2 separate regions of the Homo sapiens genome follow, and region 2 is linked to region 1. Evidence: fine-mapped expression QTL. A gene starts in region 1. The other region holds a variant in brackets. All regions are shown on one strand. Distances are between the middles of the regions.

Evidence for each region.
Region 2: its variant is fine-mapped to the expression of DAGLA in testis (GTEx, PIP above 0.99). The same link has a PIP of 0.9 or more in tibial nerve.

The regions. Positions count from the first base shown.
Region 1 is chr11:61,674,301-61,687,744 of GRCh38, reverse strand. DAGLA (diacylglycerol lipase alpha) reads right to left here and starts at 7,354. Exons shown (of 20, transcript NM_006133.3): 1 at 7,241-7,354. RefSeq lists enhancers at 3,809-4,482, 4,483-5,157.
Region 2 is chr11:61,706,625-61,722,347 of GRCh38, reverse strand. It overlaps DAGLA (diacylglycerol lipase alpha), which reads right to left. Exons shown (of 20, transcript NM_006133.3): 2 at 2,098-2,236; 3 at 1,458-1,669. The coding sequence starts at 2,192. Among named protein-coding and RNA genes, the nearest start is that of DAGLA, 34 kb to the right of the region's middle. RefSeq lists enhancers at 1,045-1,829, 2,617-3,402, 4,190-4,975, 5,762-6,547, 6,548-7,334 and 1 more. The variant C/G (reference allele first, on the strand shown) is at 8,181.

The sequences.
Region 1 (13,444 bases):
CATGATTGTTATGCTTCAGTGAGGACACAGATCAGTGAGGGGAACACACATGCTCTCTCTGAGGGGCGCCAGCGCTATTCAGATAAGAGAGTGCTACAAGATGCCTTTGTTTGGCCAGGCGCGGTGGCTCATGCCTGTAAGCCCAACACTTTGGGAGGCCGAGCGAGGCGGGTGGATCACCTGAGGTCAGGAGTTCAAGACCAGCCTGGCCAACATGGTGAAACCCCATCTGTACTAAAACAAAAATCAGCCGGACGTGGTGGCACGTGCCTGTAATCCTAGCTACTAGGGAGGCTGAGGCATGAGAATCACTTGAACCAGGAGGCGGAGGTTGCAGTGAGCTGAGATCACACCACTGCACTCCAGCCTGAGTGACAGAGCGAGACTCCGTCTCAAAAAAAAAAAAGAGTGCTAGAGTCAGTGGAGCATGGAGAATGGCCTCATGGAGGAGGTGGGATTGTGTGGGACCTGAGGGAGAGGTGGCGTATGGACAGGGACACCAAAAAGAACCCATCCTGGGTTCAAACCCTGGCTCCCTGCCTCTCTGAGTGTCCCTGAGCAGGTGATGCAAGCTCCCTAAGCCGCCCGTAAGATGGAGGTTGGAGGGATGGGAGCGTGCAGGGGGTTGCTGTTGCAAGGAGTAAATGACATCCTCTATACACTCTCCTGGGTTCAGTTCATCCACATTCAGAAAATGGAAGTTATTGTTACTAGTATTATTTTGTGGCTGAGCAAAGCCTCCTAAAGACACGCCCTGGTGCCCTCCCTGACCCCAAACCTGAAAGGCTTTGAGAAAGCTAAGTGCAGGGCCCTGTCCCCAGGAGACAGAGGTGCAGCCCCAGGGAGCCCACTCCACGGTGTGGCCTGCCCATCAGGAGCAGCCAGGGGCTGGGAGGTGCAGCATATGTTATATAAACGAAGGGACATCAATAATAGATTAACCTCAAGGAAGTCCAGGAACATCAATCATCAATTAATTAAATGGCTCCAGGAGAGACAATGACGAGGGGCCCATTCAGGATGAATTCGAGGCAGCATCCTGTCTCACCTTACACAGCGGAGGGCCACCGTCCCGACCTCCACCCCAGAGCCGCAGGCTCCCTGGCCAGGACCGTCTCCAGGTGTAGGACTGGTTTGCAGGAGCAGCCCCCAAACACAGGTGAGGGCAAGCCCTGTTCTCCTCCATCCTCCTCCAGGCTCAGAGAACTCCCAAACACTGAAAAGGTTTTGATGAAACTTCCCAGAATAGTAACCTCCTGGGCTGAACTCAGGCAGGCGAAATTTCAAGGGGTAATTTGGTGAGAAAATGATCAAATGCCTGGAAATAAGTGCTGTGAACACTGGAACCCCCTCAGTGGGTCCTCAGGGATGGGAACGGCCTCGAGGGCAGCCCTGAAAGCCTGCCGTTCACACTCCCGCCCAGCACTGACGGGAGTCAGACCCGCTGAAAGTCAAGTGTGGGCAACACATTCTAGGCAGCGATTCCGAGGCCCAGCTCAGCTTCCTGGCCCCACTTCCCACCCCTTCCCCTCCTAGTGACCACACTGACCAATCTCATGATTTCTGTCTCCCTTCCATAATCAACCAGGCTTTGTCTCTCCCCTTTCCCCTGCAGAGTGGCCACTGCCCTGGTTCAAGCCCTCTGTACCTGGGCACCCCCTACTCTTGTCCCTCAGTACCCTGCTGCCATACCACTCTTCCTGGTGGGTGGCACCAGCCTCCAAACCCTTGCTCAGAACACTTCAGTGAATGCCCATGCGTTCACAGATTGGAAACCAAACCTTCAGCCCTGCCATCATGGCTCCTGGGGACCCAGCTCCAGCTCATTTTTCCAATCTTAGCTTTCACCACTTCTGTTGTATGCGCCCTACAGCACACAACAGACGGGCAGCAGTTTCCCCTCCCAGCCACCAGTCACCCCGCCAACCCGCCCCCGTTGCTGCCAGTTCCTCTACAAGCACCTTCCTTTGTTCACTCCCACCGGTACCCATGGCCCACATAAAAAGGCCGTGGCCACCCGAGTCTCCCCAACCTCCCTGGCTCGAGTCACTCTCCCTCCTTTGACCTCTGGCATCACTCATTTCTAGAAATTAACTATATCTTCTCAACAGATTTTAAGCAACTTGAGGTCAGAATCTACACCTTATAGGCTCTGGTATGACCACCTCATCTGCATGCCCTCACTAACCCCCAACTCACAGCAGGCGCTCAAGAAATAACTATCGACTATGTCCAAGTGGAAACATTCCTCAAGGCTAAGATATACTCTTGCTGATGACACTGCTAACAGATATGCAAGATTCTGTCTATCCCAAGGATGTGGGGAGCTAACTTCTTATCAAGTAATGAGACCCATTACATCTTCCCTACTGCTAATATATGCAGATCACGACATAACCACTTCTCTATGGAAAGGATTCCGGCCGCAAGAGCAAAAACATTTTTTCAGTGCGTGTTTTCATCAGGATCTCTCTACGCACCAGGCATTACCTGGGAGAATTCTTGCCATTCGGCTCTCGGAGGTTTTACTGTCCCCATCTTACAGATTAGGAAACTGAGGTGTGCCAGCATCCAATCTGGGTCCGTGAGGTTCCAGAGTCTGAAGTCATAACTACCCATGGGCTACAATGCTATCTTCTGTCATGGGGGGGAGGGGACTGTCCCCAGCTGACTTCCAGGTGGTTCAAGGAGGAGCATGGAAGCAGGCGTGTGAGACGCCCCCAGGTAGCACACAGAAGGGTGTGTGAGAGCCCCGCCTGCAGCCCAGCTTCCTTCTAAGGAATACTGAGAAAGCACTCGGCTCCTCATGTAAAGAGTCATAACATGAGGTATGAAACCCACCCTCTGCCCTCCCACAGCCTGAAGGCAGCCTCCTCCGACTCCCACTGTTCCCTCCTGCTGTGAAGAGCCCGGCAACCCCCAGCTCCGCACACCCACCAACACCAGGCCAGCCAGACACGGGAGCCTGCGCGCTCCCACACCACCAGGCGCTCCACACCCCCTCCGCCCTCACTTCCCACAGAAACACTTATGGGCACAAGCAACTTTACACACGTGCACTCCCCGGGCAGCCCCGCGGTAATAACAGCCCCATCCCCATCTAGAGGACTTAGGCGTTCCTGCCAAACACCCCATGAAAACACCCTTACCCGTGGTCACACCAATCCCCTCCACGGCATCTCCCTGGACTCCTTCCTCAGCAGCAAAGAGGTCCTCACAGATAAGGCAGTTTCCTGGGTCTTTCCTGCCCACACACACAACCCACGTCCACACCCACACTCACGCTTCCCATCCAACCCAGAAAGACCACGCCCAGCCCAAGTCAGTATCAGAAACAAAAAAAGAAAATCAAAATAAACCATTTTCAGCCCTATCCGCTGGGGAGGTAACCGCATCCTGCAATGTCCTGGGCTCCGCGGTTCTAAAAGATTTATCTTCCTCTGACCACATGCTCATTGATATTTCCCCCAGCGCTACTTGCCCAGTCCACTGGAGTGTAATGTAAAGCTATTCCGGTGAGAAATTGAAATCACAGAGTGATGGGCCAACAGGTGATTAAACACTGAGGTTCCCCTCTGGTCTCGAGGAGAGGGACTGGGGGAGGAGTGGCTTCCAGTGACAAGCTGTGCCTTCAGCTGCAGCCTTCTGGCCCGCTGCTGTCAGCTCTGGTCCAGCATCCTCTGGCCACAGATGCCTGGCTCCCCGGCACCCCTAAAGCACAGCAGCCAGGCACTGTGATTTATGGGGCAGCTGAGGAATTGCCAGGAGCTGAGGAAAGCAACTTTTAGAGAAACATGGACAAGGAAAATGGGAATATGACTGGGGACCAGAGTTGAAATATTGTAGCTCCAGGGAGCTGCTTGCCCTCGAGGTCCACTCCTAAGTGACTGGCCCCCTGCCTCAGCTGGAACTTACTCGAAATCAGCATCTGTGCACAATGACAAGGGTGCTAACCTGGCTGGGCTCCCTGCTACCCCAAAACCCCAGGACTGGGAAGAAAGCTCAGCTCTCCTTTTGGGGAACAGAGGCCAACTCCTCCTCTCAGTGTCTTCAGATCTGCCCTGCCTGCCACTCAGCTCTGGTGGGCAGTCCCAGCATCCCAAGCAGAAGGCAAAGGGTGGCTGAAAAGGGCTCCTGGAGCCCCAAACCATAAGGCTGAGCCACAAATCAGAACAAACAGGAGGAGGTGTGGAGGGTGAGCTGAGGAGACTTGAATACTGAATATTCACAACAGGGAGGCTGTAGGCTTCCTCCTTAATGGACTCTGCACTTAAGAGAGCTTTCCAGACATGAGCTGAAGTGCCCAGCAACTCCTCGGGGGAGGTATGAAGCACTGCAGGGAGCGGGTGAGACAGGCCATGGATACCCCTCAGACCAACATGGGAATGACCAGGGAAGCACCTGCAATGCTGGACAGTGTCTGCGTGGCAGCTACGGGGACAGGGCGAGTCCATAGCATGGAAAAGTCAGCTCACAACCCTGGGTCTGGGAGGGCCGTGTCCTCCTTCCACCCACATGGCTTGACACTGCAGCCTGGGCACAGGGCAAAAACTTTCCTCGGGGAGCAAGGATGTGAAACAGGTTGCTGGCTAAGGCAGACACCCGCATGGAATGCTGAAGAAACGGCCTGGGTGAGAGAAAAACAGGACTTCCAGCGCCATGGGGCAGGGTCTGCAACTCAGGCTCTGCAGCTTGTTGTCGGGAATTAGGCTCCTGGTGGCAGAGAGCAAAGCACTGTGCAGCCACCCTCATCCTCCCCACCTGGGAAGGCACTTCAGCCAGAAGTGGGGCCACATTGGGAGAGGTGCCACACCTGTCTGCCCTCAGAGGTGCCTGTAGCCCCCTTTCCTTTCCCCTATGTGTCTGAGGGCATCCTCCACACCTCCCCCCCCCGTCCCCCTGCCATCCAGCCTCAACCTCCCGCAGAACCATCCAGACCTGAGCCACATCGATCTGTGGATGCTCTGACCCACTTCATTTCCTTCAGGCCACAGCCCAAAAGACGCTGATGTGACTGCTCCCCACCCCCGTTCTCAGAACCCAGAGCCAAAGGAAATTCTCCAGAGAAAACACACACACTTCCCAAGTCTTCCTCCCACACAGGTACCCTAGATCTGTCAGCCACAGACACCTCCCAGACCTACCCTGGCAATGAGGCACGTCTGCTGCCCAAGCAAAGTGCTTCCTCCTGCTTGGGCCACTCCTGCAGGACTTCACAGCTGCCGGGGCCATGCTCAGGACTGTCCTCTGGAGACCGGGGGCCTGGTTCCAGCTCAGCAGCTGACTCACAGTGTCAACAGATCCCACTTGCCCCCACCGGGAGCATGTGCGCTCAGGGCCTCTAATTCCCTATGACAGGCCCTCAACCTTCCGGCTCCCTTCCTCCCAATCACATCCCGTGCCACCATTTCCTATGGCTCCTGCCTCCAGCCCTGGTCTCTTTACTTGATGAGACTCTCTGACCTTTGTACAGTCTTTCGCTGTTTGCAAAGTGTTTCCACGTGCACCATTTCCTTTCATTCTTTACTACCAGACCACCATGTGACATGCCTTGATTGGTGAAGTCACCTGCTGAAGGTCACACAGCCAACACTGGAATTAAAGTGATATGGCTCCAAAGGCATCGGACAGTGCTCCGGTTATAGGGAACTCATCAGCATCTCCAAGCACCCACCTTGGCAATTTGGCGACCACCTGCCACCCTACCCTCAACATCATCTTTTTGGACTCATAAGTGCCTTCCCCAGCACAAGCTCAACCCTGTGATTCTTCTACCACTGATCCCACTCCCCCAAGAGATCCACAAAGAACTGAAGATTTCCCCTACACTGTAAGACTTCTCTAGGAGGAGCTGCAAATTGCTTCTCTGTAAAGTAAGGCACTAGGTGATGCTGAGTGAGACCTTCACCCAAAGCTTCCCAAAGGACTGGTGAGAGCAAACACAATCTCAGCGCAGATGGAGGGGTTTTAACATAGGAGCTAAGCAGAGAGGACAGACAGAGCCCTTGGAAAGGAATTTAAGCCTGGGGGTGGGAGTCCCGGTGGCCCCAGCAGATTCCCAGTGGCTGCAGAATCATCTTTCAAGCATACCCCAATCGATCCAATCCTCTGGACCCAAAGGCTCCCCAGCATCAAAGAAGAGAGGCAACTCCCAGATACCCTGGAGTGAACCCATCAACCCAGGGAGAAGGCAGGACCCCGTGACTACAGATAGATGGTGCGCCATACCACTCCCTCACTCGCTGACCCGGGTTACCTCTTGGTCCTGCTTGCTTCTCAGGACATATTCTGGGACACCGATCACCACTGAAAATCATCCACCCCTCCCTTCATTCCCAAAGCTAGATGAAAAGCTAGATGAATGGTTCTCTCTACCTTAGCCCAGGACAACGGTAGTGCCTGGAAGGTCTCTATCTGGGTTACCATCAGGGCCCTTGTGGTAGAAGCTTCTCCTGGCATCTCTTGTTTATGCCCATTATAAAGGACACCAACCTTCTCCCAGCCTTCTGCCCTCCTCAGTCCAGTGTACCCAACAGGCATTAAAACTGGACCCCCATGACAGAGGCAGTGTCCCCTTCATCGCCCGTGAGGAAGGATGGGCATTTACCCTTCCCATTCATCAGGATGGGAGGGCCACGGACTCCCCCCGCGGCAGTGCCGGGTAGCCCCCCGCACCACACCGTGCCAAGGCCCTTTCTCACAGTCATGCCAGGAACTCTAGCCATGCTGAGAACACCAATTCTTCAAGCCCCCAGTGCTATCACCCCAGATCATGTCAAGCCCAAGGCCAGAACCATCCCAACACCCAAGCAATGGCAGCACTTCCTCACACCCATGCTAGCGGCACCACCATGCCGGCACGAGCTGGCCACCTATCCCATAACCAGTCCGAAGGCCGTGCCCATCACCTACCTGTGCAGACAGCTGCACCACCTCACACCTGCGTGGCCACCACCGCACCAAGGTGGAGGCGAGTCTTCTGAGACCCGTTCCAGGAAAACCACGCCGCCTGTGCCGGACCCACGTTGCCCACGCCCGTGCCACGCGTGTCACCATCCCCACGCTGGTGCCAGGGGCTCCACAGACCTCACACCTGCCACGGGCGCGCGTGGCAGCTGCAACTCCGCCCGCCGACCCGTCGGGCCGGCCACCGCGCGCCCTGGACACTGCCCAGCCCGCCGCGCCGCTCGCACCGCGCCCGCGCCCAGGACCGGCCCGCCGCGCCGGAGGCCCCCCTTACCTCCCGCCCGCCGCAGGGCTCGGCCCGCCGCCGCGACCGCCACCTCCATCCTGGGCTCCCCAAGGCCCCGATTCACTAACGCCGCTTCCGCAGGGCGCCGGCGCCGGCGCGAAGGCCGCCTCCGCCCCCCGGGGGACGCTGCGTCCTTTACGTAAACCCCTCTCCGCCGCCAGCGGTGACCATGGCGACGGTCGTGGGGAGGCAGCGCCCCCTGGCGCCAGGGAGGGGAGCGGCGTCGAGGCCAGGGAGAGCCGAGTCTTCCGCGGGCGCCGGCCCTGCGCGTGGGGGCGGTGGGCGCCTGGCTCAGGCTCGGCTGGGGTCCCGTGGGCGGCCGGGAGGGGCTGGACTGGCCGCGATGCGTGCGGGGAAGGGAGCCGCCTGGGTGCCTGCCCCTCCTTTAGGTCCCTCGTGACCAGTTTTAGCGTGGGAGAGGGAAAAAAGGAAGTAGGATCACTGGAGAACTGGTTCATTTGTGGGGAGGAGAGAGACGGGTCCCACCTCCTCGGGGTGACTGAACTCTGCTTGAGAAGTCAGAGCATGGCTAGAGTTCCTGGCGTGACTGTGAGAAAGGGCCTTGGCACGGTGTGGTGCAGGGGTCTACCCGGCACTGCCGTGGGGGGAGTCCGTGGCCCTCCCATCCTGATGAATGGGAAGGGTAAATGCCCATCCTTCCCCACGGGCGACAGAGCCCGTGGGTACCCTGGGTACCCCCTCCTCCCTACCACCCCCCCACCCCCCACCCCTACCCCCGTTCCCAGTGCCCAGCATCGTGCCTGGTCTCCAAAGGGGTTTACTTGGTCAATTTTGAATTTCTGGTAAATGAAGAAAACCGCCCCTCCTGTTCCCCTTCACGCCCTTTCATTCACCGTAAGTCGCTTACACCTCCCTGGGAGCACTGTGCTGAACTGGGGGAGTGGAGCACAGAGAGGAGCAGAAGGCGGGCCCTGACTTCAAGGAGCTCATTCTGCTGGGGAGGAGACGCAGATGGAGGGGGTTTTAACACAGAAGCTAAGCCGAGAGGACAGACAGAGCCCTTGGAAAGGAATTTAAGCCTGGGGATGGGAGTCCAGTCTGCAGGTCGGGATGACTCAGCTGGGTCCCAAAGATCCAGTAAAGATTCATCAGAGACAAAAAGGGGAAGAACGTTTTCTTTCAGGCAAGAGAAGTGCCTCTAAAATGTTTCCTAGGCCCTGTTGCCACCCCCAAAATCACAGTGATCGCGCAGTTCAGTAGAAGTGGGAGCCATAGGTGAACAAGGAGGTGTGGGTAGTGGGGTGCCCGGCTTGAGCAGAAGCCTCGGTCTGAAAATTACGTGGACATTTGGGTTGGAAATGAGACTGTGAGGCCAGGACTGCCTTTTATTGAAGCAGATGGAGCCACTTCTGGAAGGAGTTCTGTGTTACCTGTGATTATTTAGAAAGCAAACTCACGTAGGTAACAAGGAAAATGAGGAGTGGGCGCATATACCCAGTGGGGCACCTCAGGGGATTCAAGGAGGAGTTGAATTCCTCAAGGCTCAGGAAGGGCAGAGATCAGGGGAGGCTTTAAGGGACAACTGTAGCAGTATCAGTTTAGGGATCTTCTTTCTAGATCATTGCCATTAATCAGAATCAAAACTGCCAGATTGGATGTCTCTTGGTTCAAAGTTCCCGATTCCCAGAAAAAAAGAATCTTATTAGTCCAGATCAGGCCACGGTCAATCAGCTATGGCCAGGGCAGAAAGTGCTTTGTGATACAAACATGTCAGTCCACTTTTCCCCGTTGAGAGACACTCCCAGAGGAGGAGAATCATGACCTGAACAGCCAGTCCAAAGACTGTCGGCCAGGGGCGGTGGCTCATGCCTGTAATCCCAGCACTTTGGGAGGCAGAGGCAGGTGGATCACCTGAGGTCAGGAGTTCGAGACCAGTCTGGCCAACATGGTGAAACCCTATCTCTACCAAAGTACAAAAATTAGCCTGGCATGATGGCAGGTGCCTGTAATCCCAGCTACTCGGGAGGCTGAGGCGGAAGAATCACTTGAACGTGGGAGGCAGAGGTTGCAGTGAGCCGAGATCGTGCCATTGCACTCTAGCCTGGGCAAGAGAGCCAGACTCCATCTCAAAAAAAAAAAAAAAAAAAGGCTGTCTACTACGGATCCATCCCTTAGCTGTCCCATGTACACAAACTCACATGTGTCCATGTGCACACATGTGTCCCGACACACGCCAGTCCTTCTTCCCATTCCTCCAAAGTTGTCTTCACCAGACAAGTACCAACAGTCACCTTCACACTTGATGTCATGAGGCTACTATTATTTCAAGATCTTCAAGGTGATTGATCCCATCTGGTCATTTAACTGAATTAAAGGGTTACTTTTACCATCACCAAATCCTTTGAACTCTTGCTACTCAGAGTGAGACATTGGCACCACCCAGAAGCTTAACGGGAATGCATAATCTCAGGCCCAAGAATCTCAGGTTGGCAACAAGATTCCCAGGTGATTTGAATGCACATGAAAGGCTGAGAAACACCACTATTATAAATGTTAGGTGACCGGGTGCGGTGGCTCACACCTGTAATCCCAGCACTTTGGGAGGCTGAGGCGGGTGGATCACCTGAGGTCAGGAGTTCAAGACCAGCCTGACCAACATGGTGAAACCCCATCTCTACTAAAAATACAAAAATCAGCTGGGCATGGTGATGGGCACCTGTAATCCCAGCTATTCGGGAGGCTGAGGCAGGAGAGTTGCTTGAACCCGGGAGGTGGAGGTTGCAGTGAGCCGAGATCCCGCTACTGCACTCCAGCCTGGGCAACAGAGTGAGACTCCGTCTCAAAAAAAAAAAAAAAAAAATAGGCCCAGCGTGGTGGCTCACGCCTGTAATCCCAGCACTTTGGGAGGCCGAGGCAAGCAGATCACAAGGTCAGGAGTTCAAGGCCAGCCTGACCAACATGGTGAAACCCCGTCTCTACTAAAAATATAAAAATTAGCTGGGTATGGTGGCGCGCGCCTATAATCCAAGCTACTCAGGAGGCTGAGGCAGGAGAAGCGCTTGAACCTGGAATGCGGAGGTTGCAGTGAGCCGAGATCACGCCACTACACTCCAGCGACAGAGCAAGACTCCCTCTCAAAAAAATACATACACACATAAATGTTAGGTGAAAGGAAAAGGAAAGATAACAAAAACATTTTCAAATTGTGATTCATATTTTCTTAAAGGGGGAAATGGTCAACTATTTAATCTTCAACAACTCTAGTAACAAGCAAGGAAAGACAGGGAGGGACTGCAGTCTTTATTTTTGCAATTGGTCACAAACTCCTAGAAGGTACTAGCGAATTCCATCCTCTAACGCCTTATTTCTGTGTTCTGCAGGTCTCCTGCCCGATTCTTATTCAGTCAGGATTCTTTGCCTGACAGACTGACCTAAGCCTTCTTCTTGAGGGCTGAGCCATGGCTGTAAGGCATCTCAGCAGGCTTCCAGCAACATCGACCACTGGGTACAATGATGTAAGAGGTCCTTCACGGGGGTGTGGGTTCTACCCATGGTGTGTGTGTGTGTGTCTGCGTGTGTCAAAGATCCCCAGATGGCCAGTCCCAGTTTCCAGTGGAACCACAATGGTGCCTCCTGATGGATTTGCTCCTCCCTTCCATTCTAAAACCACCAGACACACAATCAAAACCCAGAGCCGCCTGCACAGGAAACAGGCATTTTGATGAGAGAGAGGGGCACCCTCATCACTTCTATTTCTAGTTCCAAGACGCTTTGGAAGAAACATATCAGAAAGGGTGGCTGTTCCAGAGCACACACTCCCCACAGACCTGACCTGGTCCAGCTACCAGAGGTGCATCCTCTCCACGCCAAAGCCATGCCTGGCCTTCTCTCTGAGCACCTTCAGGCCCAGTTCTGACAGCATTTGGCCAGGTGTCTTTGGAGATAGTCACCAGCACTGTGAGCAGACAGGAGCTGGGGAGGAGGACAAGAGCGAGGGCACCAGAACAGACAAGTCGTAGACTGGTCCCAGTCCAGCTGTCAGGCTGTGCTCCCTCCGCTCTGTGCCAAGTTCCCACTCTGGCCTCAGTTTCCTTCTGAGTCCCAGTGGGGATAATAACATGACTCTTCCTCCTGCGGGGCTGTGCAGATTAACTAATTAATGAGTGTGACAGCGTCTGCATCCACAAAGGGGCTGATTAAATGCTGAGTGTTGTTATTAGTAGCTGTGGCAGTTGTGTGACAGGCAGTTGGCTGGAGACAGATCTGCCCCCTGCCTCCTCCCCATGGAGGACCCAGATGGAAGGGTCCTCCATCTGCCCCATGCTCCGCAAGCCGAACATCTTGCAAGACAAAGCCAGGATGATTTTTAGCACCCCAAAGACAGCATAGAACTTTTGCGCATTTCCCCTGTGCTGGAATGTGAGTCACAGCCGAGCTTCATAGTGTAATCTATCTCCGACAGCTGGCACAGCTGTACCCTGCCCCAACTCAGCTCCCAGCAGCTGCAGGATGGGATGGCTTGGTCAGTAACTGCAGTAGGGTAGAGCTGCCTGCAGAAAGACAACTGCAGAATTCCTAAGCTGAGCACCATCCCCTGACTGTATTGCCCTGTGGAGGCAGGGATTGAGTGACCACCTTTCCTCACTGCCTGAGATAGTGGGAGCCAATATGACACCTTGGCTAAGCAGTCAGGGGAATTCAAAGCATGCAGGGTTTTAAAGTATAAAGTATCTGCTCATGGCCGAGGGAGATATAGTGACTATATTTTAGCTTGGCTGCAGGGTATAGGATAACTGGATGAAATCACAGCTCTGGGGCATGATAGCTTTAGCCTAGCTTATTCCCAGACGTAGAAAGTCCAGAGAGGCCTCCGAGCTAAACAGTGAATGTGACTTTGCAATACACAGCCCTGGATCCCGTAGTATGTGTGAGGTCTGTTGCCCACCCCTCCGATGCTGGGTCTTCCACCCTTGAATGTGATGAGTGCTGGTTCCCACCCTGAGTCCTGATGCATCTGACGAGGTGGGTAGGAAGGAACTGCTGCTACCAGGTAAATAAGTCTGTCTCTGACAACCGCGGGGAATGTTGTTTACCCAAATAGCACAATCTCAGCCTGTCTGGGGAGGCCAGAGAAAAGCTCTGGAGGCTAGGCTGCAGACTGTCACAGAGGGAGAAATTAGCCAGTTGCAAGGTCTAGCAAATCCATGTGAAATGGACCTCAGGACACCTGGAGTCAGCTCTGGATCACCAGGGCTTCTCCTAGTAGGATTTCAGACCTTCTTGCTTCTGAAAACAGCGACTTTCCCTGCACTGCCAGAACTTTTCTCTCCCTGCCTTCCTTGTCCCTCCTGCTATAAGGTAACATGAATGGATCACAGGACCAAACAGGCTAGAAGTGGGAGCTGGACCACAAGGCTTTGCTGGTAACCCAGGGGTTAAAATGTTACCCACCACCAAGAGACGAGTTGTTCTCTCTTGCCAGAGGGGCGCCTACAAGCCCCTATCTTTTACCTGGTAAACACAATTTTCAGTCAGAATCTCAAAAATCTGTGTGGTAGTGGTTGTAATGGGGGTGGTGACAGAGGAGATGCTGGAGGTGGTGACAGTGATGGCAGTTTGGTGGTCATGACAAGAGGGAGGAGAACAAGGACTGACAGCTTCCTAGGGGAAGCTCTGGGAGTTTTTTCCACCTCTGCCTAATCCCCATTAGTTTGGGTATCACCAGCACTTCCCCTGAAATGCCCAGCGGATTGGGAGATCCTTGCATCTCATTAAGCAGCCTATTTGTGTTTGCTCGCTGATGGGTATGGTAGCAAATAGTTTTTCTCCTTGGGGCACTGGGGAGCTATGGGAGAGTAAACACAGATGTCTCAAAGGAAAACGGGTATTTACTGACTAGTGTGATTCATCTGCACTTTCTGGACACCAACAACCAGAGGAGAGAGTCTGTCCTCTTGAAGGTGTTCCATCCACCCATTCACCCACACACTCATTCTTCCCCCTACCTTTTCACCCATCTACCCATCTACACACCTGCACACCCACCTACCCATCTGCCCACCCAACCATCCACTCACCTATTCATCCACTCAGTCTGTTCATTCACCCATGCACCTACCCATCCACTCATTCACCCATCCATCCATCTGTCCATCTATTCATTCATCTATCCATCCATCCATCCATCCATCCATCCATCCATCCATCCATCCACTTATCCATCCATGCACT
Region 2 (15,723 bases), 33 kb before region 1:
TCCCAAAGTGCTGGGATTACAGGCATGAGCCACCGCGCCTGGCCCATTTCCTCATTCTATCAGGATCTCAGAATCATGTCTGAACTGTGGAATCAGACACATCTTAGGCAAGTTTCCTAATCTCTCTGAGCCTCCATTTCCTCATCTGTAAAATGGGAGTGACAACATTTATGTCATAGGACTGTGCAAAAATTAGATGAGAGCGTGTTCACTTCATGGAAACTATTTCCCAGCAAGAGGCCTCTGGAACCTGATGGAGGAGAGAGGAAGGGCCCAGCAGCTGGTCTGCATCCAGCTCAGGCCCCTCAGGGGCTGAGACTGGAGGGGAGGGGTATGGAGTGGTGGCTGAGAAGGAGATCTGCTGGCCTCATGGGGGCAGCCTGGAAAGCCCCAGCTGCACGGGCAGCAGTGTGGCAGCTCAGAGACCAGACTTTGGAGCCAGACAGCGTGGGTTCAAATCCCAGCTCCGACATTTACACGCTTACTAGTTGTGTGAGAGCTAGGCCTGGGCCCCAGTTTCCTCATCTATAAACGGAGACCAATAACACCCACTCCCTGTGAGTTAACACAGGAAAAAGGGCCTAGCCCAGTGCACAGAAGCACAAGAGCAGTGTTCACTACAAATGACCAGAAGGGGCTGCAACCTAAGCCCAAGAAGAGGACACAGGCTGGTCCTCTGGGGAGCTGGCCCAGACTCCTGAGGGGGTTCCCAGGAAGCAGAAGGCCTGTTTTGAGAAGGATCACAAGGAAGATATGCTTTGAAGAGATGCACATGGTTGAGGATGGGGTCAGCACCTTTTCCTGTAAAGGGCCAGAGAGCAAATATCTTGGACTCTGGGAGTCCTACAGTCGCTGTAGTAACTACTCAACTCGGCTGCTGTAGGGGCAAAGCAGCTGGAGACAATACCTTACTGAATGGATATGTGCCAATAAAACCTTATTTTCTTTTTTTTTGAGATGGAGACTTGCTCTGTCACCCAGGCTGGAGTGCAGTGGCGCAATCTCGGCTCACTGCAACCTCTGCCTCCTGGGTTCAAGTGATTCTCCTGCGTCAGCCTCCCAAGTAGCTGGGATTACAGGCGTGTGCCACCACACCTGGCTAATTTTTGTATTTTTAGTAGAGACGGGGTTTCCCCATGTTCGCCAGGCTGGTCTCGAACTCCTGACCTTGTGATCCACCTGCCTCGGCCTCCCAAAGTGCTGGGATTACAGGCATGAGCCACCACACCCAGCCTAAAACCTTATTTAATAACACATACAGCAGGCTGGATTTGGCCCTCAGGCTGCAGTTTGCTGGCCCCTAGTCTAGAATGTAAGCTACAGAAGGCCTTAGTTCACTGCTGTACCCCAGTGCTAAAACAGGGCCTGGCTCGCAACATGTGCGCAGTAAATACTGGCTGAGTGAATGGAGAGGTGGGAGTTGTCTGGGGCAGCACCCCAGGGTGGGTGGCCCTTACCCAGGCGCACGTAGAGCACGTACTGCATGGAGTCACGGGGCTCCGTGTAGAGGATGCCCCCGCGCATGCTCAGCCAGATGATGGCCATCTCAGCGATCATGCAGCTCAGCAGGATGCCCAGGTAGCCGCGGCCGTGGTCCACCAGGTTCAGGGAGCAGGCCTCGTGCGGGTTATAGACCAGGCCGAAGAGCACCACGGACAGGATCACAAACCTGTCACAGGAACGCCCGTGTGAGCAAGGCCAGGTGGCCCCTGTACCTCGAGATGCTACTAGCAGGCAGGCCCTTCCCCAGCCCAGATTCAGTGGAAGGAGGGCTGGCAGCAGGCACCTCCTCCATAAGACCATTGTCCACCTGGCATCGAATGCCTAGAAGGGCATGGGCGGCCAGTAAAAGACTCAGGGTCAGCCATGGGGAGACAGTAGCAGCAACTCCCCCCAGTGTTGGGGTCAGGTCCAGCAATGGTAGCAGGGGTGTCATTGCCCTAAGGGGCTAGATGTTTCAGGCACCTCCTCCGGGCAGCTGGGGGCATGACAGGGTTGGGACTTGGGCCCAAGCAGGGAGGAACAAATGGCCAGAAAGCGTCCTTCCAGACCTTTCTCTCCAAACCCAGGCCTGTGGCCCCGGGCCTGGGGACTCACCAGGTGGTATGCAGGAGAAAGAGGAAGATGGCCGGTAGGACGAGGTCATCACTGCCCACAGACCAGCGCCGCCGGAACACCACGATCCCGGGCATGGCTGGTGGCTCTGCAGAGGCTCAGTGGGCCTGGTGCTCACCTCCTGAAAGAAAGCAGAGGACCTTATAGCTGCCTGAGGAGGTGAAGGCACCCAGGGCCACTGCATTCCTTGGGCCACGGGACCAGTCCCCGGTGTGGCCAGAAGCACAGGCATTTTTGGAGCTGGCCACTGGAAGTGCTGACCCACCTCCGGGCAGGAGCCAACACAAAGGACCTTAGCAGCAGGACACAGACTTCAGCCTTCCCCCTGGAGTCTCTCCTGTCCCCCGAGACTGGTACTGGCCACTAGGGATCGGCTTCTACCTGGGGTTACCCCAGCAGTCACTGTTGAGCTCTATTAAAGACCCCGTTTCCTCCTTCATGGGATCAGTGGGACCCTCAGCCCAGCCCTCAAACCCTATAATCTTTAGACCTGGCCCAGTGCACACTGTCCTTGGAGTCAAGGGAGGGGCTTCCCAGACCAAGAACAAGCCCACCCAACAGCACAAAGCCCAGCAGGGCAGGAGGAAGGCTGAAGGCCTTGGGAAGGTGGGGGCAAGGGACCCTGTATGGTTGGCAGCTGGGACTGACAAACATGGAAGGTGAGGAGTGCCTGGCATAGAGCAGGTGCTCAGTAAGTATTTCTTGAATGAAGGCTTCAGTTTCCTGCTTTGCTGGAAGCCAAGAGCGTGCTCTATGACTTGGTTTTGAACCCATCAGACAGAAGTCCCCACCACAGCTATGCCTCCAGGGAGGGAAGAGCACGGTTGAGGTGCAGGGTCAGGAGTAGGGCTTGGGACACCTTCCACCCCACACTGCTGGAAGGATGGGGTAAGCCCTGCAGGGTCACACCCCTCCTGGCAACCATACCTCCCAAGCCCACCCTGAGCCATGCAGCTTTTCCAGCTGGATTTTCAACTCTCTGAAGTAGCTGAATTCAAATCAGCCCCAAGCAAGCTCAGGAAAGAGTGCCCAGGAACTCAGGGCCCTCACTCCTTAGCATCCCAAAGAGAAAGGAAGCAGCATGGGTGGGAGGTGACCCCACAGGGAGCTAGGTCCCCAGAGATACCCATAAAGGGCTCCAGGGTAGCTCTGCACTAAACTGCTGCAGGGGGCTGGGGACCAAGTTGGTGGGCAGCTGTCCCCCGCCGGGGGCCAGTAGAGGCTTACATGGCACCTGGTCCGGGGCAGGCGGCAGATCCTCCTCTCCCCAGTGGCGGCTCCAGGGAAAATGTGTGTCCGAGGAGCCCGGCATCATTCGGGGAGGAAGCAGCCAAGTCTCCCTTGGCCAGTGGGCATAGCCCCCAGGGTGGGCGAGAGGGCGTGGGGCCAGGTGGCCAGCCCGCATGTCCGCCCGGCCCGCCTCCCTATCCCCGGTGCAGCCACTTGGCGAGCTGTGGCCTGGCGGGCTGGCGGGCTAGCCTGCCGGGGTCGTGCCTACTCCTCCCCCCACCCTCAGGAAGTGACATCATCCCACTCTCTCTCCAAGGAGGAGTCGGAGCTCAGCTTCTGGGAGGCAGGGAGAAGGGTGGAGAGTGAGGGAGCATGGTGGTGGGGTGGCTGGGCTTTGGGGGTGGGGGGTGGTCTGTGGACTGCAGGGGTCCGGGGCGTCAGCAGTGCCTGTGACATGTGGCTGACAGCACCAGCTTCAGATTAGGGTTGGACACGATAGGACAGGAGGGGGGGCTGGGGCACCGTGGGTGGCAGTTGGGCTGGGGCAGAACAGAGCTGCCAACAGCTGGTATTGCCGCCCCCTCCCTGTCTCCAAGTAGCTCACAGAGGGTAAGGTGCAGCGCTGGGTCGGGCTCAGGGGGCTGTCGGGGCTGCCAGGAGCCCCTCACATGAATGGAACAGAATGAAATGGAATGAATCTAGAGGCTGGGGGGGCAGTACGCCCCCGCAGGTGCTGTAGAGCCGCATCCTGCTCTGATCTGGCCAGACCAGGGGAGGAGGGAGCAGTGCTGTCCCAGAGGGGCTGGCTGGAGGGCTAGGGTCTGGCCCTACCCAGCCTGCCCCCAGGCCTGCCTCTGCCAGCAGCCAAGAATATCTCCTTCTCAGGTCCACCCCATGGATGGCCCCTCTCAGTCACCCTGGGAGGTCCCTCCTCTCACTCCCACCCTTGGACCCATGGAACCCAGGATAGCTAACACTCCTCGAGATCACACACCATCCACCCAACACACACACTCACTCTGCACTCCCCTCCTCTGCCCGAACAATGCCCGCTCGCTTCAGCTCTCAGGCTGGAAGGAGTGAGCCGAACCTGGCCCTGGGCCCTGCAGAGGTGAGGTGGCTGAAGGACTGTCAAGACGCTGGAGGGATATGACCAGTGGTAACCACTGCCCCCACCTCAGGGTGACCAGCCTGAGGCCAATTGCCATGGTCAACAGCAGTACCTACCTAGAGTATGAGGCGGGGCTCCTGGGGGCCGACCCTGCTGGGTACCCAGTGACAGGCCTGCACCAGTGGCCGGCCCACCACCATAGAATCCGAGGCACAGAGGCTGGGACACAAGTGCCAGGCTGGCTGGTTTTGAACCTGGGCTCTACCACGTACCCACTGTGTGACTTATTAGTCGTGCCTCAGTTTCCTCAACTGTAAAATGTCGATTTGTAAAATGTCGATTATCCCTACCTCCTAAAGTCCTGGTGAGAATCACATGAGAGGTCTGCAGAGGCTCTAGCTGTCTTAGCTGGGGCGGGCGAGGCGGAGGGAGTGCAAGGAACCCCTTGCTGGACCAGCCACCCCTCCCGCCTGGGCTGGTGGAATCTCCGGCTGGTCACCAACAAGTCAAGGTCTGGGGTGGGGGTGGCAGGGCCTGTGCTGCATAAGGGTTGGGGGTGGGCTGCACCACTCTCCAGGCCAATTCATACATCTCTTGGGGCTATTTTTAAGGGCCTTGAATGGTGCCCTTTCTCTAGAGACCCCGGCCCATCACAATAAGGGCCTGTTCCCCTGCTGGGGATGTGATTTCATCTGGAGGAAATGTCTCAGGAGCGGGGAGGGCAGAGGCTACTTCCTGGTCTGGGGCTGCCACAAAGCACCTCTTCTGGCTCTCCTCCCCTGGGGCATAGGGTCCTCCCCTCTAACAGCCACAGTGGGGCGGGGGTAGGCGCTGCCTGCCCTTCCTATCCCACACCAGTGGGGCTTCCAGGGCAGGCACGGCATACCTTCCAGCAGGGGCCACAGGGGCACTGCTGGGGGCTCCTCCTGCCTCTGGTTGGACCCCCAGCACAGGCAAGTGTGAATGGGGTGCCAGGACCCCTCTCACATGGATGGAATGACTTAAGCAGCCCAAGGAAGCCTCCTTCTTCCCCCACCCACACAGCCCAATTTTCCTGCTGGTGATTCAGGCCCCTGGACTAAGTACTAACCATTCTGGGAGTTCCTCTTTCTAAAAATGCAAACTCTTTTTAAAAATGCATATGCTGCCCCCTACTTTAAAAACCTTCCTGGCTCCCCATGGCCTGCAGGACAAAGTCCAAGCCCCTCGGGCGGCAGCGACAGGCGGTGCAACCTCAGGCATATGCCTCGCCCTCTCTGAATCCACGCATTCCCTTATCACCTGAGCAGAAAGCGATCCTGGTGCAGACAGACTCCAGCACAGAGCCCACCCTCAGCTGACAAATCCTCTGGCTGGAGAGGCTCTCCAGCACCTTCTTACACTGCCACATCCTTCTTTCTCGACACCCCAAACATGCTGCTCCCCAGAAACACATCACTGGAAGGGTCCATGCTTTGCTTACTCCAGTTCTGATGGGTGAAATCCAACTCATCTCTCTAGGTCAGCTAAAAGTCACCTCCTCTTTGAAGCCCTCCCTGACAGCCCTCATGCAACCCACTCTCCTCCTGGGAAACAGGCTGCTCCCTTATGGGAACCCTAGACCCCTTCCCCCAGCATGGCCCTGGTCACACTGTGTTACGGTTAACCTGCTGACTCCTTGCTGCCCATCCCCACCCCAGCTCAACAGTCCCCGGGGCCAGGGTCTCACAGTACCCATCGCCACACCTCTGGGTGCCAGCTGCAGTGCCTGGCTCCAGCACCTCAGTCCCACCCCATGGCCTCCTCAGCACAGCTCCCCTCCCAGTCACAAGGGCTGAGACAGTGGCTCCTTCCCCCTCTGAGCTCACACCCTTCCCTTCTGGGGAAACGTCCCTCCCTTCCTGACTGTCAGGCTGGGTTCCCACCCCAGTGTCTTCCCTGACAGCTCAGGGAGAACCCTCTCCCCCCCCTCTGGCTAGATGAACTGTTCTGGGACCTCAGTTTCTTCTCTTGTAAAATGGGGCTAACAACATCCCTCTCAAGGCTGTGGTCAGAACAGACTGGGGTGATGTCACTACAGGACTCTGCACAGGTCCTGCACACCCCAAGGATCTGCTGATGGCTGCTGTTGCATTAGCAGACACCTGAGGGGCTTTGTGGGGACCTCCTGTGATGTGACCTGTGACTGGGTGCTGGGGTCTGGAAGGTGCTGCTGGTGCCCAGCTGGTCAGAAAGGGCTGGAGTGAGCAAACAGAAGCCCTGACCGAGGAGCCTGCCCCCACCATGAGTGCTCCGGTGCTGCTGGTAAAAGCACCCCAGGCTGGGCCTCGCCCCCTCGTCCTAAGGTACCCTGTGGGCTTGGCCCTGGGAGCAGATTTTAAGGAGCAGAGTCCCTTGGCAGCAAGACTCCCAGCAGATGGGGCTCCAAGAGCTCCCAGGGGGATGGGGGGGAAGAAGGTACTGGCTCAGCCCTCTGGAGTGTCCACAGGGAACTGGACAATGAGCTTGGGAACCCCCACGAGTGCCACCTCCAGCCCATGAGATTTCCCATCTGGCCAGAGATGGCTTTGGTCATTGGCCTGGGGATGGGATAGAGGTTGTGCCTGAAGGAGGGGATGACAGCCAGGTCCAGCCATAGGGATCCATCTGACATTAGCTGAGCACCTTCTGTGTCCCAAGTCCTGGACTAACCGGCTTCAGTCCTCACAGCAGTAACACAGGGTCGCAGTGTCGCTCTCATTCCACAGTGTGTGCAAGGGGTGGTTAAGACCCTGCACTCTAAAACAGGCTGCATCTGAGTCTTGGCTCTGCCACTTACTGGCTGTGTGACCTTGGACAAGGTACTTAACCTCTCTGTGCTTCAGTCTCCTCACTTCTAAACCAGGGATAAGAAGAGTACCTACCTCCGAATTATCAGGAGGGTTAAATCAGTCAACACTTCAAACAGCGCCTGTCATCTGGTAACTGCTCAGCAAATGCTGCCACTGCCATTACTATTACTACTGAAGAATGAGACTGAGATGCAGAGACTGCCTGACACCATCCGAGGATCAAGAGGCCAGGCAGGCAGGAGGCGCAGGTCATTCCTGCTGCCATCCAAAGCCCACACCTAACAAAGGTCAGAGTTAAAAGGAGTCTCAGAACAGTCCCACTGTCCCCTTTCATGGGCGAGGAAACTGAGGTTCAGAAAGAACACAGAGGCCCTAGCTCTTCCCGTGATATCCATCCCAGCAGCGTCACTGCCAGGTGCTGGACACACAACCCAAGCCCCCAAGCCAGCCTGCTCCCTTCTACCTCACTACATACCCCACTCAAACTCCCCAGTGACAACAGCATTAGTAGCGTGTCACCACAGGGAGCCTGGGCTGAGATCCTCTCTTTCACGATCTTGAAGATGCCTAACCCTCCTAGAAGCCAGCAACATCCACAGAAGCTCCCTCACAGGAGATAAACCTGCAGGGAGGCATCAACCATGTGCCTACTTCAGTCACCTGCGGCTGGCTCTCCTGCCTCCAGCGGTGGAGTCCCTGTTGCTCTGCAGCAGCTGTGGTGACAGAGAGGAGACTCTCAGACAGATCCAGAGAGCCACCTTCCCTGGGCCCCCATTTTACTCCTGCCTCTGGGGGCTGGTGATGGGGACCAGGTCCAGCCACATCCTAGAGCTGCCTGGTGCTGAATGAAGAGCAGTGTCCCCAGGACAGAAAGTCCCAACCCCTCTAGGCCCCAGTAAATCAAAATTGAGGGC[C/G]GGGAGGATGAGTCCATTGCACACATGTGAGACATAAGGGCCCCCACGGTTGCTATATGTAAAACTAGCACTGGACGCCACACTTCCTGGTTGCCAAAGTAAATGTGGAAACTGGCAAGTTTGTAAGGGCTCTTTTTCGCTCTGCAGGGTTTTTTGACCCTTGGTGTCCTGAAGGGAGAGCCCAGGACTCCCATTTCCATGACGAATGGGATTCCTATGTGAAAGGGCTTTGAAATTGGAAGGTGGTCCAAAATAGTGGAGAGGAACTGATGCCTACTGCCTGCTATGCTCTCGTGGTCCATCCGATTTTGAATGTGCCTTGTTGGGCACTGGAGCTTATCTGGTCTGGGGGTGGGCATCTGATCTGCGGGACTCAGCACAGTGAGGCTGGGCCCCCCAGTGGTGCCCCGCAGGACACTGGTGGCCCGCCCCCCAGCAGAGGCGTTGTGTTCAGAGGCTCCACCCCAGCTAGGGTGGGCTCACCAGCAGGTCGCTGTCTGGCCTCGCTGGGCTGGCAGACAGGTCCTGCTCTCTTTAGCACAGGCTTTGGTCGTGGTGAGATTCCAGCTGTTCACTGTGGCTGCAGGACTGTGGTAGCGAGTTAACCTCTCTGCACTGGTGAAACTGCAGGCTCCAGGATCCTGGGTAGTGACAGGGACAGAATGATCTCAGCCACCTATAAGTTGGGGACTGGGCTGCTTCGGTTCTCCTAACATTTATGAATTGCCTACAAGGTCTCGGCGCACATCTATGCCCTTTACAAACATGAACTCACCTAGTCCTCATAACAGTTCTGTGAGGTAGGTACTACCCTTCCCCTTATTTGACAGATGAGCTGAAGTGACTTGCCCACAGCCACACAGCCTAGGCCCAGAACCCAGGTCTTTACCTCTGCATGCTGTTTCTGAGAAGCAGGATTCAGCTAAATGCCTGTTTCTGAACTCAAAAGCTGGCTCTAAGCCTCTTCTTACAGACTGAGGAGCTCTCTGGGTCTTCATCTAGCTTCAGACTCACAATCATGTGGGATAGCACGGGACCCATTCTGCAGATGAGGAAAACTGAGCCCAGGGGAATTCCACGGAGCAGGCTGTGGAGTCGGGAGAGAGCAAGGCACTAGAAACACTATGTGTCATCCACCTCCAGCCTCATCAGGCCACAGGGTATTACCCCAACTTTACAGATGAAGAAACCAAGGCTCAGAGAGGCAAAATGGTTTGCACGAAGATCCCTCCACGAGGACATCGCAGAGCTGGGATTTCAAGTAGCTTCCTTGAACTACTTGCAAGAAAAAAATACCCTCTCTGCCTGTCAGTCTGACTCCTTATTGTCACAAACACAGAGACAGTAGGACCCACAGGTCCCACCCCAGGCTCCCGGGGCTACAGTACCTTCCCCTTCTTCCCAGTGGCCGAGAGGCTGGCCTCTGAAAGCACAGGAGGGGAGAGGTGACAAGGGAGACGACGGAGAGAAAGCACGTGTGGGCTGGGGGCCACGTGCGCCACCAGCCTGTACCTGGGTGTGTGCAACCCAAGTTAGGGGCCTGAAAGCTGTCGCTTTTCACACATCAGCTGCGCTAGAGCAGAAGGCAGAGCGGAGCCTGCCCAGGACTGGGGCCAGATTTCAGCATGAGATAGGTCCTCACACGCCCAGGCCTAGGGATGAAAACAGTGTGCCTTGTGCAGCCAGGGGCAGGAGTGGGAGGCCACTGACATTTGTCCCCTCCTACCCGCCGCCCAGGGTCTTAGGCTAACAAACGCCTTTCCCACTCTCCCCCAGGATGGCCTGGAAGGACCAGAGGAGGCACCTCCTCCACCCCTCACCATGTGCCAGCCACATAACCATCCTCACTACAACCCCAGGGGTGGGTCTAGCTGTTCGCATGTCATGGATCGGGAAACTGAGGCTCCAAGAATTTAAAGAAGCTAGCAAGTGAGTGTCCAAGTCAGGCTCTGAAGCCAGGTCTACCTGCTGTGTTCTCTCTGTGCCCTCCTCGTGCTTCTTGGCCAGAGACCCCTCCCCTATAAAACAGCAGTCAGGGAGCTGGGCACAGAGTTCAGGGAGGAGGACGGAAAGAGAAGCTCCAGTGACTTGGGGGCAATGCCAGCCTGGGCCGGACCCAGAAATAGTTCCAACAATTACTCGATCGTGTTTATTTAAAAACAAACTCTTATATAGCATTTACTACATGCTGGTTACTTTAACAAGCAGTTCACAAAAATTACCTCCTTTAATGTAATCCTTTTAACAACCTCTTATGCCCTGTATTATGGATGAAGAAATGGAGGCCCAGAGAGGCTAAATAAGTTGCCCAAGGCCACTCAGCTCTTCAGCGGCAGAGCCAGGCCTGAGGTTGCAGGGCCTGTGCTCCAGGCCTCTCCCCAGAAGGCTTCACCAGGGCTCCATTTATTACCAAGGCTCCAGCTACTCGTTCTCACGCTAATTATTTTCTACTCATCCACAATGAGCAGAATTTGCCATCTGCCACCAGCCCTGCTACTGACACCAGCCAACTCCCTGGGAATCAATTGAGGCCTTTCGTTTCCTGCTGGTTATTTTGGAAAGATGGCTGGCTGCTGGGGAGCGGGAAGTGAGGGCCAGGAGGGCAGCAGCACCCTTCCCTGGCGACCAGGCTGGGCCCTCCTCCTGCCCCCAGCCTTCCTCTGACCTCTCTTCCCAGGGGGATTCACATCAGAGCCCACTCAGTCCTGTGCTCCGACAATGTTTTCCAACAGTGGAAGGAGTCCCCCAGGCTCTGGCCAGACCAGGTCTGGCTTCTGGATTCTTCCTTGGAGATTATTCATTTTTCTGAAACTCAGAACAAGCCCTTGTCCCACACGTCCACATCCCCTCTGGAGAGGCCCAGACAGGCGGGTTCTGCTGGCCTCTGTGATGGGTGCGGCCGGGCAGCCTGGATCTCCAAGCCCTCACGCAAAGGCCGACACCGCCCCACACTGGGTGGCACCAGGCTGTTTTCTCCTGCCTGTCTGTGGGGAAGGGTGTCTGTGGTTTTCGTCCTTTCTACCTGCCCCGGTGGTCTTCTTGGTCAGTCCCCTCATGCCCTAACACGTCTTTACCCCACTCTCCCGGGAACGCGACTCTCTCAAAGGCATCGACTTGGAGGGGGTGGCCATCCAATGAGCTGACCGAGGCCTGCCTTCTGGCCCCAGAGCAGGGCAGCCCGAATTTGAATCTTAGTTCCATCACTTCTAGTTGTCTATGACTGTCACTTCACTGAGCGTCAGTCTCCTCATCTGTAAGATGGAATAATGAAGGTACTCACTTCATAGTGAGTGAGTCATGAGGAGTTAACGAAATAACGCACATAAAGTGCTCAGCTCTTAGAAAACAGGAGCTGCCATCATTGTGATTTAGTAACCATGTCTCCCCAGTGTGCGCAGAACCTTTACCTCACCTTGCATGGCAGGGGCAATAACTCTCCGCGATCTAAGTCAATCTTCCCAAACAGACAGGTGAGCAGGCTGACCCACACCTGCCCTCACCCTTCCAGCCTGCATAATCCTCTGACTTGCCTTCTTGGAAAGGGAGAGCTCCAACTCCTAGGAGCCCAGCACGGCCGCACTGGCACTGCCTCCTTTAATCCACAACCACCCAGGGAGAGGGGACCCAACACCCCTGGGACAGCTTGAGCCACAGAGTTCTCGCCCAAGGCCACAAGACTCTAGAACACTCCAAAGCCTGAGATCCTGCCAGGATGCCCCGCATCTATCAGCTTGCATGTTTGAGTTTCAGGGTGTCTCATTGCAGGCCCCTTCCCAGCTCAAACGCAGGATGCCCTGAGAGGTAGCGGTCCCCCCTCCCTTTAAGCCCATCTGCCCTTCCAGCTTTCCACTGGCCCCACCCTCTGCTCCTCCCCCCAGAGTCACCCCCTCTCCTAGGAGCCACTTGCTGGGACCTCACTCCCCAGATGGCCCCCCTGCCAGGCAGTTCATCAGCTCCCAGCACGAATCCCAGCGCTCTGGCTTCTCAGAACTTCCTTGAGAGGAGACTCCGTCTGGGTGCTGGCAACGCCTCAGTGAAGAATTAGTACCTTCCACTTCATTAGGGGCCCCCTAATGAAGCTGTTAATGATATGCTAAGTGGGCACACCTAGCCTGATGCCTCCCCTCTTGGGGCCCCCGCCCCCTTGCCCAGCCTACCCTGAGCCCTGGTCCTGCTGCCTCCTCTCCTCAGGCTGTGGGTTGGCCCTCGGGGTCTGGCTGGTGTGGGTGCCTGCTGCTCAAAGGTGGGGAGGCTTCGTGGGCCACCTCCCTAAGCTGCATGGCCATCTAGGGCACAGGCTGGCCAACTGGGCTATTGGGTTTCCCTTCGACTGTACCCCGGGCATCTCGGAAGCAAGCAGGGATCAAGTGACTTCGTAACAGGAGCTCTTTCCCCAGGGGAAGAGGTTCTGCAGAGCTCTAGTATGTGACAGGAAGGGCCAACATCCCCTGCCCCCACAGAGACTGGAGAGGGAGGTGGCACCTGCCACCACCAATGGCACACAGGCTGCAGCCCCGTCCCCTCCCTCTGTCACCCTCCTCTCCTTCTGTGCTCAATGAGGGGGATCTCAGTGCTCTTCAGTGGGTTTCCAGAAGCCCTCAGGGACCCCAGATGAGGGGAGGTGGCCATAGTGGGCAGGCTTCAGTGGGCTTGCAGGCAATGTCAACCACAGCAGCTTTCAGCTGCTCTGGATCACCTGAGGTCAGGAGTTCGAGACCAGCCTAGCCAACATGGTGAAACCCCGTCTCTACAAAAAATTAGCGGGGCGTGGTGGTGCATGCCTGTAATCCCAGCTACTTGGGAGGCTATGGCAGGATAATTGCTTGAACCGGGAGGTGGAGGTTGCAGTGAGCGAAGATTGCGACATTGCACTCCAGCCAGCCTTGGCCTCCCAAAATAGCTCTAGGTGACAGAACTAGACTCTGTCTCAAAAAACAAACAAACAAACAAACAAACAAAGTTTGAAAGCCACTAAGCAGGATATGCTCTCAGGTCCATTCTAGTCTGGACTTTTAGAGTTTTACTTGCAGAATGGCCAAGGAGAGAGCCTGGGGGCTACATACAGGTGCCTGAGCTCACACAATGATCACAGCATTTCCTCCCCTCGCCTGAGCCAGGAGGGCAAAAGGGGCCACAGAAAAAAGTCACTGACCCAGAAGCTTAGAGACCTGGGCCTACAGCTGACTATTCTGTCCTTCAGACCTCCCTATCCCCTCCCATCACCCCAGGCAGGGCAAAGCTGGACCCAAGCACAAGGCCTCCAGGAAGGGGCAGGGGCTCAGAAGGCCCCTGCTGCCGGGTGGAGGACAGGACTGGACCCGGCTTTGGTCCCAGTGCCTTGATTTACTCAAACGGCCACAGAGTTGTGACCTTCAATATACAACGCAGCCCTCTCCTCGTCTATAAAATAGGATGAGGATGATGACAGTGCCTCCCTCTTGGGGTGGCTGGGAGGACAAAGCGAGTTAAAAGTTGTAAAGTGTGAGGCTGGGCGTGGTGGCTCACGCCTGTAGTCCCAGCACTTTGGGAGGCCGAGGCGGGTGGATCACGACGTCAGGAGATCGAGACCATCCTGGCTAACACGGTGAAACCCCATCTCTACTAAAAAATACAAAAAAAATTAGCTGGGCATGATGGCGGGAGCCTGTAGTCCCAGCTACTCGAGAGGCTGAGGCAGGAGAATGGTGTGAACCCAGCAGGCAGAGCTTGCAGTGCGCCGAAATCACGCCACTGCACTCAAGCCTGGGCGACAGAGTGAGACTCCATCTCAAAAAAAAAAAAAAGTTGTAAAGTGTTGAAAGCAGGCTCTGGCTCAGAGGAGGAGATTGGTGACATAGAGCTTTAATTAAATCAACCCCCAAGTCGGGCGCGGTGGCTCACGCCTGTAATCCCAACACTTTGGGAGGCCTAAGCGGGCGGATGACTTGAGGCCAGGAGATCGAGACCAGCCTGGCCAACATGGCGAAACTCCATCTCTACTAAAAATACAAAAATTAGCCAGGCATGGTGGGGGGCACCTGTAGTCCTAGCTACTTGGGAGGCTAAAGCAGGAGAATCGCTTGAACCAGGGAGGCAGAGGTTGCAATGAGCCGAGACTGCGTCACTGCACTCCAGCCTGGGCAATAGAGCAAGACTCAGTCTCAAAACAATAAAATAAATAAATAAATAAATAAATACATAAATAAATTCCCTTCTCAAGAGCCTATTATGACTCCTAAATGCCCTTTAAATAAAATTAAAACTCCCAACCATTAGCTATAAAGCTCTCCACCAACCACACCCCTACCCCGCCCTGCCCAGCCCTGCCACCAGCACCCATACCCTCCACCTTGTCTGACTCTGTCCCTGCCGGCCGGGCACGCCCACTCCCAGCTCCTGTCTTTCCACCTGCTCAGCCACTGAGTGCACCCCATGCCCAGGCATTTCCTCCTCTCCAGATGGCCCCGCTTGCTTTGGGCACTCCGCCCCGACATGGCCTCCACAGCCTGCGAGGCCTGCTCAGTGCCTGTCCCAGCTGGCCTTCAGCCCCAGCCCTGGCAAACCAGCCCACAAATGACCAGGTAAGCCCGTGACCCACTTTCCTGCATGCTTCTGGTGTGTCTGCCTCACCTCCTCCATTACACTGTAGTTCCCAAGAAGACCCTGGCCTCCATCTGCCTCTCTCCCAGCCTGTGGGGGAATAGGCCAGGAGGCTCTGGGCAACATAGAGACTGGAAAGGAGAGGGGAGAACAGGCCTCCACGATGAGGGGAACCCCATCAGGCCCCTGACAAGTGCCAGCCTCTGCCTGCCCATGCCTGAGCAAGGCCACTGACCCACTCTGTTCTGGGTAGGTAAGTGCCCATCTGCTCGACCTCTGACCCCAGAATTTGGCATCACTTTCCTTCCCAAGAGACTCGCCCAGCCTTGTCACGCTGTCACTTCTGCGGCCTCTGCTTCCCGACCTGCTCAGGGTGTGGTGGGAGGTGGAGCTGGGGCCACATGCTCGGCACAGCCCCTCTGGCCCCAGTGGCACTTCACTCCCACTTCACGAGGACACGGCAGGGAGGGGGCGGGAGTTTGGCAGGGCTTCATCCCTGTCAACCAGGGGCTGGTGCCCTCGGCCCCCCTAACTATCCGCAGTGGGGAAAAGGCAGGCTCCCGCTAACCCCTGCTGGCCCAGGGGAGGTCAGTGAAGCTGCTGTAACTCCAGGGGATGAACCTTTCCGTGAAGGAGCTGACGGCAACGTCTGAGAGAGACCAGCAGTGCTAATGGGATGCCCAGCTGGGGCTGTCAAGCCAGACAAGGTCCTGGTGAGACCGGCAGAGGCCAAGGCTCCTGCCAGGCAGAAAGTGGCACCTCGTCTCCTCCAGGGTTTGGGGAGGCAATCTGATAATGCCTGCTTCCTCAGCAGGCCCAGTCCTAGGAAGACTCTGGGGTGGGGGTGGTGGTAAGGGAGTCAGCGAGAGCTAGGGGACCTCGGCGGGGTCAGCCTGCGTCACAGCTCATGCTGACTCCTCCACCTTCAGTGGCCGCCGGCTGCTATAAATACCACTCCTGTCTC